2 separate regions of the Homo sapiens genome follow, and region 2 is linked to region 1. The links come from fine-mapping of genetic effects on gene expression. A gene starts in region 1. The other region holds a variant in brackets. All regions are shown on one strand. Distances are from middle to middle.

The links. PIP is the estimated chance that this variant, and not a neighbour inherited with it, causes the effect. A credible set is the group of variants that fine-mapping cannot tell apart.
Region 2: its variant is the best candidate, but not a certain one, in a credible set for the expression of MAGED2 in nasal epithelium (TOPMed, PIP 0.62).

Annotation. Positions count from the first base shown.
Region 1 is chrX:54,806,137-54,808,982 of GRCh38, forward strand. It overlaps MAGED2 (MAGE family member D2), which reads left to right and starts at 1,609. Exons shown (of 13, transcript NM_177433.3): 1 at 1,609-1,666.
Region 2 is chrX:54,891,366-54,894,283 of GRCh38, forward strand. No RefSeq gene overlaps it. Among named protein-coding and RNA genes, the nearest start is that of TRO, 28 kb to the right of the region's middle. The variant T/A (reference allele first, on the strand shown) is at 1,062.

The sequences.
Region 1 (2,846 bases):
CTTGGCATTCTAAACTTGCCAACTTGCCATGATTTGGAAGGGGTGGGGAATTTGAGATGCCAGAAGTAGAAGAAAAGGAGGGGCTATGTCTAGTGTGGATAAGGGAGAAAATCTAGGAGGCAAGAACATGGTGAACTGATATCACACACTTGGAGAAAGCAATAATTCAGAGAAAGAGAAAAGACAGGAAAACAGAAGCCTGCCTTGAATATGCAAGAAATTTGTGTGTTTGTCTATCTTGAATTATCCATGGAACACAGGGATTCATTATATGTTATTTACATAGTAAAAGGTGACCACATAAAGCAGAAGACTTGTGTCCATTTGAATTACATTTATATGTGGAAAGGCACTGAATATTATTTCTGCAACTAACAGTTGTGCTGAATTTTATTATGGTTTCTAATAACTTTTTAGTTGATGCTCTTGGGTTTTCCAGGTCTGCATTTATATATTCAGTAATTAATGATGATTTGTCTATTTCCTATTATTTTACATCTTATTTTGTTCTCTTGAACAGATCCAATTGGTTATGTGAATTTATTATGTGATAGAGGTGCCATTTCAAAGCAGAGAGGGAAAAGATGGATTAGTTTGCACATGATGTAGAGGTAAGAGACTATGATTTTGAAGAGTAATCAAGCTGAATCCGTATAGAAAATAAATTTTGAAATGATCAAACATCTAAATGTAAATAATAAAGCCACAAAAGTGCTTGAAAAAAAAAACGGGGTTTGTTATAGGAGTGTGAAAAGCATCTTTAAGCAAGCAGCAGAATCCAGTTGTGATGAAGGAAAAATGGATATATTTGACTACATAATAATTAAACATTTTTGTTTGGCAAAAATTATCATAAATAACATGAAAAATATTTGTAATATGTGACATGTACAGGAGAGACATTGCTGGCGGGAATGTTATCCATTTACTTTTTAGGAGTAAGTTGACAAATTTTGCATCAAAATGGAAGACTTTTTTGTAGCATTTGAGCTAGCAAAAAATACCATAAATAACAAAAAGTGCACCAAGCAATCTAAATGTACATGTGTACTGGACTGGTTCAATAAATTATGGGACATCTATGCAAGAAAAGATCATGCAGCTGTTTAGAAAAATGTGCACTAACGGAAAGATGTTTTATATATAACTGGAAAAAAACAGGTCGCAGAACAGAAGGTATGTATAGTGTACCATTTGTCGGAGAGAGAACCTGAATAATTAGTATACGAATAGAAAAAAAATCTGGATAGCAAAATGTTAATAGTGGTTATTTCTGGGAGATGAGTGGCCTTTCATTGGTGTGTTATATATTACTGCATTGTTTGAATTTTTACAACAACAACAAAAGAACAACATATTACCTTTGTAATAAGAAAAAATGAAGATATAAAAATAAATTCAATGAATGACTTGCTTTCAGGGGGCGGTTTGAGTTGGAAGAGCTTCAGACTGAGCCTGGTACAGTGGCATAAACATGGGCTTTGGCGTCAGACAGCCCTGAGCGGGGCCCCATTGCCCCACCCCCGAGGAAGGCGAGGGGGGGTGGCAGGGGGCTGCGGAAAGGGGCTGGGCTGGGTTGGGCTGTCTGCAGCTCTAGTCCAGGAGGCTGAGACTTCGAGAGGGACTTAGAGAAGGCAGACGCATCCCGAACTCGCTGGAGGACAAGGTGAGGGGCGTTGATATTGGGGTTTTATGGAGGTCAGACAGTGGTTCCAGACCCCTCGAACCCATAGCCAGGCAGATGAGCAATTCTTACTGCACCACTGCAGCTGAAGCAGAGGTGACCTGGAGTGGGGTGTAGGCAATGAGGACGACTGAGAAAGTAGTAGGCTGTACAGACTGGGAGCAGAGACTAGCGGAGGGAGGAGGGGAGAAAAACGGGGAACCAGGAATGTTGGGAGGGGGACGAGGAATACAAGGAGGGAGGGGAACACTGAGGGGGAGTGAAGATCCAGAGAAGAGAATCGGGGATGCAGAGAGGGATTAAGGAATACTGAGGGGCAGGGTGTGCAAACGTAACACGGAGGAGGATGTAAGAAATGGGAAGAAGGAATTCTGGAGTAAATAGGAAATGTGAGGTAGGAATAGGGAGTAGGGAGCCAGGCTAAGGGAATACGGAGGGGGGCATAAGGAATGAGGAGCAGGGAGCGGGGGAGGGGCAGACAGGCTGGGACGGAGGCCCCCTAGGGAGGCGGAAAGGGGCGGGACCACTTCCGGCCTAGAGAGGGGAGGGCAGTCTCCGAGTTTCGGAGGGGCTTGGAGTGAGTGGACGCACTCGGGAATTGTAGGAGGACGAGGTGAGCAGCCGGGTCGGCTTTTGGATGAGAGCCCCGCTAGGGGTCGGCCCCACCCTCTGGGATCTGGAGAAAACCTGCCTTAAGGACCGGATCGTACCGGATCCATCCGGCTGGGAAGGGAGGGGACTGGACCCGGTTTGGCCGGGCCCAAGATGGAATCACTAGCTCAGTATTTATTTGAGGAGGGGGTGTAATAGGGAAGGGGCGGAACCAAGATGCGCCTGTTTGGAGGGGGGCGTGTTAGGAAGAAGGGCGGGGCCAAGAGACACTGGACTCTGTAGGGCGTGAGTAGGGGAGGGGCCGGGTCCACCAGACACTGCGACAATTTTGGAGGAAGGCTTGTTGGGCAGGGGGCGGGACCGAATGGTACTGCGGACCTGGAGAGGGGCGTGTGTTGGGGCAGAGTGCCAGACTGAGACCACGACCATTGCGCATGCGCACTATGTTTCGCTAGAAAGGGGCGTGTTGAGAAGGGCCAGCACTGAGAAGAGCCAGCTGCTGAATGCGCATGTGCACGGTGGACATCAAAGAAAGGGCTCGTGCTGGGAA
Region 2 (2,918 bases), 85 kb after region 1:
ACACGTAGATTCATATGTTTGATCAGCTAAGTTTTTGAGAAGGGACGTATGTGAAAAAAAATCAGTAGTAAATTGGTCTAGGTAACACGTAGACATCTGTACGTGGATTATTGGAACTTAAGCTTATTGGAACACAAAGAAAGAAGAGGTTATTTCTACTTGTGTTGAGAAAGATGGAGAGACAGAAAAGGCTTCATAGAGAAATGGTTACTTGGGTTGAGATAACACACAAATGAGACCTAATATCCATTAAATCGACAAGGTTCAGGGAAGGATGGTTCTGGTTAGAAGAGATGGCATGTGTAGAAGTATACAACATACATAGGGACATGATACAGCATGGCATAGAGGGAGAAAGCATTTCTTCACTCCAAACTAATGAGAGCCTCCCCTTTAGAGTATACTGCCACGAGGTGGCAGTAGGAGTCTTATTCTTGTGTTCTGAGGCATTGGTATGGCTGGTTAACTAGCCAACAGCTAAATCAGGAACGCAATCCCATTCACAATTACCATACACAAAAAATAAAATTCTTAGAAATACAGCTAACCAGGGATGTGAAAAGTCTCTAAAATGAGAATTACAAAGCATTCTTCAAAGAAATTAGAGATGACACAAACAAATGGAAAAACATTCTGTGCTCATGGATAGGAATAATCAATATTAAAATGGACTTATCGCCCAAAGCAATTTACAAATTCAATGCTATTCCTGTCAAATTACCAACGACATTCTTCACAGAACCAAAAAAAACTATTTTAAAATTGATATGGAACCAAATAGATCCTGAATAGCTACGACAATCCTAAGCAAAAAGAACAAAGCAGGAGGCTTCAAACTATACTACAGGGCTACAATAACCAAAACAGCATGGTACTGGTACAAAAATAGACACATAGACCAATGGAACAGAAGAGAGCCCAGAAATAATGCCACATACTCACAACCACCTGATCTTTGACAAAGCTGACAAAAACAAGTAAGGGGGGAAAAAAAACTCCGTATTCAATAACTGGTGCTGGGATAACCATTCTGGACATAGGAACAGGCAAAGATTTCATAA[T/A]GAAGATGCCAAAAGCAATTGCAACAAAAGCAAAAGTTGACAATGGCATCTAATTAAACCAAAGACCTCTGCACAGCAAAAGAAATTATCAACAGAGTAAACAGACAACCTACAAAATGGTAGTAAATTTTTGCAAACTATGCATCTGACAAAGATCTAATATTTAGCATCCATAAGGAACTTAAATTTATAAGAAAAAAAAATCAACCCCATTAAAAAGTAGACAAAGTACATGAACAGACACTTCTGAAAAGAAGACATGCATGTGGACAACAAGCATATGAAAAAAAGCTCAACATCATTGATCATTAGAGAAATGCAATTCAAAACCACAAGAGATACCATCTTACACCAGTCAGAATGGCTATTATTAAAAAGTGAAAAAAAAAATAACAGGTGCTGGCAAGGTTGTGGGGAAAAAGGAATGCCTATACATTGTTGGTGGTAAATTAGTTCAACCATTGTGGAAAGCAGTGTGGTGATTCCTCAAAGAGCTAAAAAACAAAACAAAACAAAACAAACAAAAGAACAAAACAAAACAAAAAAACCACCATTTGACCCAGCAATTCCATTACCAGGTATATACCCAAAGGAATATAAACCATTCTACCACAAAGGCCTATGCATGTGTATCTTCATTGCACCACTATTCACAATAGCAAAGACAGGGAATCAACCTAAATGCCCATCAGTGGTAGACTGGATAAAGAAAATGTGTTACATATATGCTATGGAATACTGCACAGCCAGAAAAAAGAACAAGACCATGTCCTTTGTAGGAACATGGATGGACCTGGAGGCCATTATCCTTAGCAAACTAACACAGAAACAGAAAACCAAATACCGTATGTTCTCACTTATAAGTGGGAGCTAAATAATGAGAACATATGGATACAAAGAGGGGAATAACAGATACTGGGGTCTAATTGAGGGTGGAGGTTGGGAGGAGGGAGAGAAACAGAAAAAAACAACTATTGGGTTCTAGGCTTAGTACCTGGGTGATGAACTAATCTGTACAACAAACCCCGTGACGTGAGTTTACCTATATAACAAACTTGCATATGTACCCGTGAACCTAAAATAAAAGTTAAAAATGAAATATGTTGGCTTTTCTACTTATAACTATTTCTAAGCCTACCTACATAAATATTTGCTCAAAATAAAGCCCACCAACTTAAGAATGTAAGAAATGTTACTTTCTTTGCTTTCTTTAACACTGATCTTCCCTTTTACCATCTCTACTGAACTGGATGGTAGAAACTTATAAAATTTTAGCTATTTATAGACCCCTTCTCCTGTGACCCTCTACTTTTCACCAGGATTGTATTTAACTTCTGGAGAGAAGTTTCTGGCTTCAAGATGGCTGACTAGAGGCATCTGGTACTCACCTCCTTCTAAACTAAAGTTCTTTTTTAGTTTAGAATAATTAAAACAATGAGTAGATAATCACATTTGGAGCAGATCATCTAAGAGAGAACACTGGAATTCAGCAAAGAAATGACAGGAAACACCTAAAAGAAGGAAGGAGCGGGAAGCAAGGCAGGCTGCTTGGCTAGGATCAGCTGGGAGCACAGAGAGTCTTCCTAATGTGGGGAAAGGGTAAGTGAGACATCCCCAGTGGTCCACATTCCCACCGTAGACACCTGCAATCCTAGCCATAGGAGAGCCCCTCGGCCCTCATGGACCCTGAGACTAACATAGGGAGCTATCTGGAGACTGTGTGATGGCATTGCTTCAGAGAGGGAGCTCACACTGGGTCCTACACAGCCCCCTGAGTCCTAAGCAGCTAAACAAAGGTGCCATTTTGAGAGCCCAGCCCCCACCAGACTGCATCCTGCCCTGGGGCCCAATAGCCCC